3 linked regions of the Homo sapiens genome follow. The protein of the gene in region 2 purifies or fractionates together with the protein of the main gene of each other region. This does not show direct contact. Each region holds a gene or a part of one and is shown on either strand. Other genes may lie near its edges.

The links.
Region 1: the proteins of NKAPD1 (region 2) and SCAF1 purify together in Homo sapiens (affinity purification with mass spectrometry; 2 studies listed by BioGRID and IntAct, with this or other methods). This does not show direct contact.
Region 3: the proteins of NKAPD1 (region 2) and CSNK2A2 purify together in Homo sapiens (affinity purification with mass spectrometry; 7 studies listed by BioGRID and IntAct, with this or other methods). This does not show direct contact.

What each region holds. Positions count from the first base shown.
Region 1 is NC_000019.10:49,652,120-49,655,737, reverse strand, and holds part of SCAF1 (splicing factor, arginine/serine-rich 19), read right to left. Parts: coding exon 2,033-3,618; intron 1,390-2,032; coding exon 1,307-1,389; intron 1,087-1,306; coding exon 868-1,086; intron 1-867.
Region 2 is NC_000011.10:112,077,273-112,080,923, reverse strand, and holds part of NKAPD1 (uncharacterized protein NKAPD1), read right to left. Parts: intron 2,710-3,651; coding exon 2,609-2,709; intron 516-2,608; coding exon 366-515; intron 1-365.
Region 3 is NC_000016.10:58,187,958-58,191,608, reverse strand, and holds part of CSNK2A2 (casein kinase II subunit alpha'), read left to right. Parts: intron 1-3,651.

The sequences.
Region 1 (3,618 bases), on a different chromosome or scaffold from region 2:
AGCTGTGACTGTGCCACTGCATGCCAGCTTGGGTGACAAAGCGAGACCCTGTCTCAAAAACCAACCAACCAAGGCCGGGCACGGTGGCTCACACCTGTAATCCCTGCACTTTGGGAGGCCGAGGCTGGCAGATCACCTGAGGTCAGGAGTCAAGACCAGCCTGGCCAACGTGGTGAAATGCCGTCTCTACTAAAAATACAAAAATTAGCTGGGTGTGGTGGCGGGTGCCTGTCATCCCAGCTACTCGGGAGGCTGAGGTAGGAGAATCACTTGAACCCTGGAGGCGGAGGCTGCAGTGAGCCGAGATGGCACCATTGCACTCCAGACCAGGTGACAGAGCAAGACTCCATCTCAAAGAAAAACAAAAACAAAAACCCACATCTAGACCTGACCAAGAGAGAAACAGCTCCAGAGCCCAGGAGTAGGAGCCGGCCAGAGCAGCTGAGTAAGAACCTACATTACTGTCTGCCTGGCACCCATTCTCCCCTGCTTCATCTACAAACAGGTTCTTGAGTTTTCATTCGGAAACCACCCTCCCCCACTCACAGAGACGGAGACAGCGCGAGCAACAGATAATCAAGGGGTGGGCTGCAGCGCGGGGCATCTCTTCCAGGGTGTGTATATGTGGTGTGTACGCACACAGCCCCACACACGCACAGACGCGATTTTCCTTTGGACACGCCTAACGCATTTCCTGCTCACCCATTCCAGCAAAGTGGAGTTCCTTATGGTTCCATGACTTTGGTCTCTACGGCCCTGTCTCCCTGCCTCAGTCTCCCTTTCTCCTTGGGCCCCCGCGTCTCAGTTCCTGTCCATATTCTCTACAGAACTGTCAGCACCGCCCCACCTCTCCCCAGGCCAGCTCACCTTATCTGTGTCCCCACGGCCCTCAGAGCTGCTGCTGCCCTCTCTCTTGTCAGACGTGGCAGCCAGCCCGGTGGGGGTGGGGGGGGTCGAACCGCAGCCCCCCAGAGGGAGGCTGCCAGGAAGCAGGTAGCTGGAGGGGCCAGGGGGCAGACCCAAAGAGGTGGGCACAGGAGCTGGGGTCATCCCCAGACTTGAGGGTGGCTTTCTGTGGCTGAGGATCTGTGGGACGAGGACAGAGGGGTGATGAGTAAAGGGAGGTGGAGGGGAAGAGGGGACGTGCACCCCACTGTTCCCACGCTGACTTCCCCACAGCTGAGGCAACAGGCTCCTCTTCAGGCCGATACCTTGCCCCAGAGCTGCCAGGCCCGCGGTTCCTCTCCTAACCCGAGGCAATGGACAAAAGAAGGGGCGGCAGGGACTCTCCCCCAGGGGAGCCCACCTGGTTGGTGGCCTGGATCAGCTCCTGGGCCTTCGCTCGGCTCGCCAGGTTGGCTTCTTCCATCTTGAAGAGAAGTGCAGTCACTGCAGGAGGCAGAGAGGTGACAACATGAAGATGGGAGAGGTGACAGGACAGGAGCTGGTGAACCTCACCTGGACACCTGCTGTCATCTCCTGCCCTTGGCCCCAGAACAGCCACAAAGCCTCACGCTCAGAACTGGGAAAAGGGGGCCTTGGCCAATGAGAGAACAGCCCATACCACGAATGTTCTTGGGACTCCAGGTGTGTGGGTGCGGGGTTGGCCAGGGTCATGCAGTGATGAGACAGTGGCAGGAGTGAGATTCTGCCTCCTGACCCGCTGTGGCCAGTCCCAACCTCTCTCCCCACCTCTGCAGTCTGGTAGAGGCAACCGCCATCCGTAAGGAATACGATGCCCTGCTCAAGCCATTCTTTCTGGTCCCTCTCTCCTACTCCCCGTCTAGGGGAATCCCAGAACCCAGCCCACCACTCCAGTCTGTGCTGGCCACCACCTGCTCTCACCGGCCCCTCTCTCCCAGTACACCCAGGCACCTAGAGCCTGGCTGGCCTTTACTCACCCCCACCCTCCCAGTCTATGTCCCTATAAACCTCTCCCTGCCAGGGCACCCCACTGCCTCTAAGTCTGTACCCTCCAGTCCCCATCCTGTCTCACCTGCCCCAGCACCACCCTCCCCCAGGGGACACTCACAGGCCAGGACGCCGCTGGTGGTGCAGTCCACACCAGCTGGCAGATTCCAGGGCATGGGCGGGGGCAACGTGGGCAGCTGGGAGACACGGGAAGCTGGCCCGTCCTCCGCCCCCGAGTCACCGGCTGTGGACCCCGCGCTGGGGGCAGTGCTTGGGGCGGCTGCAGCAGTGCTGGTGGCCGTGGTGGTAGCAGGCTGCTGCTCCTCCTCCTCTTCCTCTTCCTCCTCCTCTTCTTCTTCCTCCTCCTCCTCCTCCGCCCCACCTCGGACCCCAGCCTCCTCAGTGGCCTCCTCGGGCAGGAAGGAGACCTCAGGTGTCTTGCAGCTGCTGTCCACGGTCTGCGAGTCCGGAGTGAGGGCAGGGGGTGGTGGGGCTGCCTTGGGGGGCGGGGTGCTAGGAACCTTGGCTGCCCGCTCCTCCCCGGACCAGGAAGTCTCCTCCGCCCCCTTGGTGCCTGCCGCCTGGCTGCAGCTATCCGCCTTGGACTTCTTCAGCGACACCTGGCCACCACTGCCCCCGCTGCCACCTCCACTGCGGACCTTTTTCCTGGTCTTGGATGGCTTGGTCTTTCCCTTGGTCCCCTTGGTTTTCTTGGCCCCTGCCTTGGCCTTGACCTTGGTCTTTTTGGGCTTGGTGCTGCCCGGAGCTGCTTTGGCCATCTCAGTGGGGGCCCGCTCGTCAGGTTTGAGGAAGGGGGAGCGACTCTCGCGGTCACGGCTGAATTTGACGCCAATGGAGCCCAGGCCGGCTGACGCGGCATCCTTGGCCGGGGTGGTGCTGCTGACACCCTCGCGGATCAGCACCGCCACCTTGGACTGCAGCTTCACCTTCCGGGAAGAACAGGAGGACGACGAGGATGAAGAGCCTGAGCCGCTGCTGACTGGTGGCTTTGGCGGGGGCCCTGAGGAAGGCGCCGACTCCTTGGGGGGCCGGGCCTTCTTGGATGACCTGTCCCTGTCCCTATCTCTGTCCCTGTCCCGATCCCGGTCACCCCCGTCCAGCGCCTTCCGACGAGACCCCTTCTCCCGGGAAGAGGAGGAGGAGGAGGCGGCCCCCGAGCGGCGCCGATCCTTCTGGCTGCTCTTGCCGCCCCGCTCCTCGCCGCTCAGTCCCTCGGAGTCGTACAGGACCTCCCGCTTAGGTGAGGAGGCCGGAGCAGGAGAGGGTCCTCGGGGGTCGGACTTGTCAAGCCGGCCCACCGTGATGGTCCGCTTGATGGCGAAGAGGTCGTGGTCCGTGAGGTCCTGGATGGAGGGTGGCACGGCCCCCCGGCGGCGGCTGTCGCGGTCACCACACGAGGTGGAGCCAGAGGGCGGCGGGGCGGGCGCCGGGGCCTTCTCGCTGCCATCCCCAGACCGCTTCTCACCCCGGGACCGCGACCGCTTCTTCTTCTTCTTGCTGCCGCCACCGTCCCGGTGTTTCCCGCGGTGCCGCTCGCGCCTCGAGGACGACGATGAGGAAGTGGCCGGGGGCGGGGAGGCGGAGCGCCGCCGCCGTCGCCGCTTCTCCCGGGACCGCGACCTGCGGCTGCCCCCGCGGCGGCGGTCGGTGCTGCGCGAGCGGCGGCGGGTGGAGCGGGAGCGGGAG
Region 2 (3,651 bases):
CATAAATGGAATCATACAGTTATGTATGGACATAGTACATAAATAGAATCATACAATATGCGGTCTTTCGTGACTTGGCTTCTTCCTTCTCACTTAGCATGATGTTTTCAAGGCCACGTTGTAACATGTATCTGTACTTCATTTCTTTTACTGCCAAATAATATTCCATTGTATGGATATATCGCATTTTGTTTACCCATTCATCAGTTGACAGACATTTGGATTACTTGGCCATTATTTTTTGGGGCCATTATTAATAATGCTGGTATGAACTTTTGTACACAAGTTTTTTGTGGGGACAATTAATTTTGATAAGTACACGTTCTCAGGCCAAATATTAATGCTCACAGGAATTAATCACAAACCTGTCTGGCATGTTTGCTTCATAATCATAGAACTTTTTATTCCAGGATTTAGCCTTAAGAAAATCATCTTCCAGTGTCCCAGAAATTTCATTCTTTGGCCTCCAATAGTATCTTTGACTTTCTTCATCAAAACCATCACTGCGCATCCGGCTAAAAGAGAAAGCAGAAGAACTTTTAGATGTAAAAGCAATCTGTGAGTTTACTTTATGGAACATCATGCACAAAACTCATGGAACAAGCTGAGGGGGAAGGAAACAACATGATACTGTTTAAAAAAAAAAAAAAAAAAGGCAAAGACATTATCTGCTCCTCTCTATACATTTGTGAAGTCCAGTGGAAGAAATCTGACCAGGCCTAGTGCAGTAGCTCATGCCTGTAATCCCAGCACTTTGATTATCTGTTCCTCTGTACATTTGTAAAGTCCAGTGGAAAAAAATCTGACCAGGCCAGGTGCAGTGGCTCATGCCTGTAATCCCAGCACTTTGGGAGGCCGGGGCGAGTGGATCACTTGGGGTCAGGAGTTCAAGACCAGCCTGGGGGACATGGTGAAACCCTGTCTCTGCTAAAAATACAAAAAAAGTAGTTAGGTGTGGTGGCACACGCCTATAGTCCCAGCTACTTGGAAGGCTGAGGCAGGAAAATTGCCTGAACCCGGGGAGGCAGAGGTTGCAGTGAGCCCAGATCATGCCATTGTACTCCAGCCTGGGCAACAGAGTGAGACTCCGTCTCAGGAAAAAAAAAAAAGAAAAAAAGAAAAAAATCTGACCATTAGTACCCATCCTATTGCAAAGCATAGAGAGATGAAATCAACTCTGGACTATGTCATGTGATAGTTCACTCGCTGATTCTCAACTAGGAGGGCATGCAAAGAGGGAAGCAGAACATAATCATAGCAAGGGACACTTCAAACTACCCTAGAGATTCTGAAATACACTTCCCTCTGTGCAAACCAGCAACTTACTATAGAGAGGTCCCAATAACAGTGGGAACAAGGTCTAACCCATGGGAATACTGGAGTAGGAAAAAAGTTGAGAACCACTGATCCAGCTTCTGTTTACCATTTCTACTAACTAGCCAGTAAGCTGCTAATCGGTTATCAAAAATTTTTAAGGGGCCAGGTCCAGTGGCTCACGCCTGTAATCCCAGCACTTTGGGAGGCCGAGGTGGGTGGATCACTTTGAGCTCAGGAGTTCAAGACCAGCCTGGCCAACATGGTGAAACCCTGTCTCTACTAAAAATACAAAAATTAGCCAGGCGTGGTGGCAGGTGCCTGTAATCCCAGCTGATTGGGAGGCTGAGGCAGAAGAATTGGCTGAATCCAGGAGGCGGAGGTTGCAGTGAGCCAAGACCACACCATTGCACTCCAGCCTGGGTAACAAAAGCGAAACTCCATCTCAAAAAAAAAAAAAAAAAAAAATTGTAAGGGCCTCCTATGTACCAGGTACTGGTCTAGCTGGCAGGAATATAGCAGCAAATGAGAAAATCACAAGCCCTGCTCCTAAAGAGTTTAAGTATTTCTTATATATGTAGCTCTTACACTTACAAGCGTGTAAGGATCTTCCCAATTATTCAAGCATTCCTAGGCCTCTCCACAAGGAAGATAACTAAGCCTGCATAATCCTTCATATTTACACTCAAGCTATTAAGGTAATGTGAAAAGGCTGTTGATCTGGTGAAGAGGGTGAATAGACAGGGTGAAGAAAAGTCTGAGGCCAGGCAAGTGGCTCATGCTTATAATCCCAACACTGGGAGGTTGAGGTGGGAGGACTGCGTGAGCCCAGGATTCTATACCAGCCTGGGGAACACAGCAAGACACCACCTCTACAAAAAAAAAGTAGCTAGGCATAGTGGCATGCACCTGCAGTTCCAGCTACAAAAAGAAAAGCCTGAAAGAATGAAAGATTAATAGAGAATAGAATGACTGATCAGCTTAGTGACCACAAGATTCCAGTATAAAATCTTCAGTTAAAAGCTATCAGGTAAGGTTAGAATCCACAGAACCCTACACATTCATAATTGTTCAGGTAGAATTTTTTAACTCTCCATTGTAAATAAGTACAAAGAGCAGGGCCATATGCGTCACAGCCATTATCTTTATGCCTGGGTCTAGATTTACGAAAGAAGGAAGGCTTAAGGACTCACAGAACTGAATTTATCCTTAATATACCAAAGTATTTTTAAACAAAAGTTGATGATTCTGAAAAAGATGAGAATTATTTTAGTTCTCAGAGCTGCAACTTCACCTTGAACTGCTGGGTAGCATTTTCCTTTTGGTCCCCCGGTAAGCATCTTCCATCTGTTTTTCCAGTTCTCTTATTTTCCACATATCTGATTCCTCCTGAATCTAGAATTTTTAAAAAGGAAATAAAAATAAGTTACTAAAAATAACTTTACATTACAGAAAAGTAACTAACTGGCCGGGCACAGTGGCTCACACCTGTAATCCCAGCACTTTGGGAGGCCAAAGCAGGCAGATCATGAGGTCAAGAGTTTGACACCAGCCTGACCAACATGGTGAAACCCCGTCTCTAATAAAAATACAAAAATTAGCCGGGCGTGGTAGCATGCACCTGTAATCCCAGCTACTCAGGAGGCTGAGGCAGGAGAATCGCTTGAACCCTGGAGGCAGAGGTTGCAGTGAGCCGAGATTGCACCACTGCACTCCAGCCTGGGCGATGGAGTGAGACTCTGTATCAACAAAAAAAGAAAAAAAAAAAAAAGCAACTAACTGAAAATACAATCTGACTAATTATTGGGCTACAGACTGGGCTATGATCAGGAACCTGGAAAACAAATTGGTTTCTCTAGAAAGTGGCTGAACAGTCCAATCCAGTAAATCTCAAATATGTGGAAATCTTCCCCAATAGAATTTTTAAACCGCTGCACAGACAAACATCACCTTATCAATCTTGCAATTATGCTGCGATTAGCAAATGATAATGCCACATTTCCAAAATGCAATATGATTTTAATTATATCATCTCAATTGAACCTTAAGCAATCTCATGAGGAAAATATAGCAGCTACCATTATTACATTTTACTGTAAAGAAACAAAAGCTCAGAGATTTTAACAAAGTCAAAAAACTAGTAAGGACAGGTCTTTAAACTCCCTAAGCTAAATCTCTTCTGGTAATATTATAATTTTTGTCAAAAATAAAATAAAATAAAATAATCAGTATGGCTGCTAGGGAATTTCTTGAAAAGCAGAATGTGATTACCCAAAGAACACATTTTATTTCTAAGTCTTCCTGCATAATTTCATTAGATCTGTGCTAGATTTATCT
Region 3 (3,651 bases), on a different chromosome or scaffold from region 2:
GGCAGATCACCTGACGTCAGGAGTTCGAGACCAGCCTGGCCAACCTGGTGAAACTCCGTCTCTACTAAAAATACAAAAAATTAGTTGGCCATGGTGGCGGGTGCCTGTAATCCCAGCTACTCAGGAAGCTAAGGCAGGAGAATTGCTTGAACCCGGGAGGCAGAGGTTGCAGTTGGCCGAGATTGCACCATTGCACTCCAGCCTGGGCAACAAAAGTGAAACTCGTCTAAAAAAAAATAAAATAAAATAACATAAAATTTACCATCTTAACCATTCTTAAGTGTACAGTTCAGTGGGTAATGTTGTGCAACCATCACTGCCGTCCATCTCCATAACTCTTCATCTTGTAAAATGGAAACTCTATCCATTAAACAGTAACTACCTATTTCTCCCTCCCCCATTTCCTGGCAACAACCGTCTTACTGTTTCTATGAATTTGACTACTCCAGGTATCTCATATAAGTGGAATTGTACAGTATTTATCCTTTTGTGGCTGGATTATTTTGCACAGCATAATGTCCTCCAAGTTTATCACTGTTGCATGCATCAGAATTTCCTTCCATTTTAAGGCTACATAATTTTCCATTGTATGTATATACCACATTTTGTTAGCCATTCATCCATCAGTGGATGGGTTGCTTCCATGTTTTAGCTATTGTGAATAATGCTGCTTTGAATATGAGTGTACAAATATCTCCTGAAGACCCTGCTTCACTTCTTTTGGGTATAGACCCAGAAGTGGAATTGCTGGATCATAAGGTAATTCTATGATTAATGTTTTGAGGAACTTTCCATAGTGGCTATACCATTTTACATTCTGACTGCAGTGTACAAGTGTGGCTGTTTCTCCACATCCTTGCCAACACTTCTTTTCTGGTTTTTTTGATAGCAGCTATCCTGACTTGTGTGAGATAGTATCTGATTATCATTTTGAATTTATGCCTTGCCTTTTTAAATAATTTTTTTTAACTCCTGAGAGTAAACAGTTACCCTCAAGGAGTAGATCATGTAATTGGGGTGATGAAACTTGAAAGATTAGAGGAAAAGTTTTCTGTGATGAAATAACATTGCTCAGATAATATTTTTATATAGGTCAAGTGCAGTGAGTTTTAGGGATGCCACCAGGGTAGTGAATTACGTGCCATCATCCAGGCTGAACTTTCTTTTTACTCTGTCCTTCTACATTCTTGGCAACCATTGTTCATTGCAGGTGATGAAATTAATATCTTGGTGGAGCACTTGTTAGTTTGGTAGTAGAGTAAAAGTAACCCCAAATTTGAGAGCTAGGAGCTGTAGATATGTTCCTGCCTGTCTTGAATTTGTCAGTTCAGTTGTTCTTTTTTTCACCACTTTGTCTACTAGATTTCAAGTTAAAAAAAAATTTTTTTATTGGTTTGGACAATAGCTAAACTGATTGAGTTTGAATCTTTTAAACAGATAGTCTCTGAATTGGAATAAATGAACCCCAGACGGAGACTTCTTCTAGCATGCAGAGTGAAACTGTGAGATCGTTGTGGAAATATATGTATTTTCTCCATTTTGTGTAACTGGTGGTGAATGGCTACAGGCTCTGGACAGGAGAGTCAAGGCATCCTTATTTCTGTAAAACTAGGTTTATTTTCCTTAGGATACCAACAATCCTCCCTCATAAATCCTAACTTTTTATCTCTGATTCACATTAAAAGGATCACTTTCAGCTCCTCAGAGCTCATTGGTTTAGTTTCTCGAGCATCTCTCCAGTTCAGAGGAATAAACTGAGGCTGAAGGGATCTACCTGTAGCTTAGTTTTTGATGGTTTGGAGGGAAGTGTCCTGGACTGTGGGTCTGTCACCTTCCTTTTTTATCATTTCTTGGTATTTTGTTTGCATGTGAGGACTCTAGCTGCCTTTGTGACTTGGGACTCCTTTGTGCCACCTTCAGAGTTGCCCTGCTATTCCCAGTCTCTAGTTTGGGAAGTTTAAGTTAGACACCTGGTGGGCAGCAAAATATGCTTCAGTTGCTATGCCAGATACCTTTAGATGTATTGAGAGGGAGGTTCATCTTAACTGGGTTGTCCAGGCCTGACCTGTTGCTGAATAACCGGAGACCAATGCAAGACTTTACATGGGGCAGCGTCATAAAGGCAACTAATGGGTTGTGCCTGTAAGGAGTTAGGAGTACTGTTAGAATTAGAAGAGGGTTTTTGGTGGATATAGGCCTCTGGCTGTGGGTTTTTTTCCTCTCTGTTACCACTCTTATAGATCTATAGCTGCTTTCCAGTATTGGATGACAAATCTAGAATTTTCTTATATCGAAAGGCATTGACTAAACTGGTAGCATTGGCTGAATTTATAAGTATAAGATAGCCAGCTTTGGCCGGGCGCAGTTGCTCATGCCTGTAATCCCAGCACTTTGGGAGGCTGAGGCAGGCGGATCACCTGAGGTCAGGACGAGATCACCCTGGCCAACATGGTGAGACCCCGTCTCTACTAAAAATACAAAAAAATTAGCTGGGCGTGGTGGCACACACCTGTAGTCCCAGTTACTTGGGAGGCTGAGGCAGGAGAATTGTTTGAACCTGGGAGGCGGAGCTTGCAGTGAGCTGAGATTGCGCCACTGTGCTCCAGCCTGGGCCACGGAGTGAGACTCCGTCTCAAAAAAAAAAAAAAAAAAAGCCAGTTTTTATTTTTCTTTTAACTTCTTAACATAATTTTGGACTTAAAAAAAGTTGCAGGAATTCCCATATCTGTTTCACCCAGACTCCTCAAATGTTAACATTTGTTTTATCCTTCTCTTTCTCTCTCATATACACACACATTTGTGTACATATACACACACCTATATAATGACATTTATGTTATGTATTTCTTCCTGACGTGCTTGAGAGTAAATCGTAGTCATCCCTAAATACTTTGGTATGCATTTCCTAAAAATAGTTTCTTACATAACCCTACAATGCCATATTAAAAAATTAGAAGGTAACCATTGATGCATTGCTGTTACCTAATCTACAGCTCTCATTCACATTTGCCAGCTATCCTTATAATGTTCTTTATAGCAAAGGAAAATCCCAGATTACATGATGATATTCAGCTGTAGTCATGTGTTACATTCAGTTGTCACATTTTAAAAGTCTGGATCAGTTTGTTTCATGAATGACATTGACGTGTTTGATCTTACAGGCCGGTTATTTTGTAGTGTGTCCTTCCCTGGCTATTTTTTAATCAGATTGTACAGTGCTTTTTTCCCCCAAAGTTTCGAGCTCCCTCGTTAATGAAAAAGGGACTAAGGAGTAAGGTTTCTAAGTGGAGTCGGGGAACATGCACAGCAGCCACATCTGCTCTCCTGGGAACCCTGGCACAGCGGGCGGAGAGCGGGTGTCATCATGGCAGCTGGCTCACAAGGACGCAGCGAGAGCCCAGCCTGTCAGTTGAGCCCCCTGTTATAGGTGATGCAAGTGCTCTTGTTTCATAGTCCTCTCCTTCTCTGTTTTGTTATGTGTTCAAAGCTGTATCTTAGTGACCAACAAAAGATGAAGGTTTCTCTGGCATGTGTGTATGTTATATTTTCCCCCTCCCCTCCCCTTCCCCACCCCACACACAGGCAAAAAAAGTCTTGCTTTATTATTTATTGGCAAATCCATTGGCCTCTCTTTGCCTCTGCTATTATAAC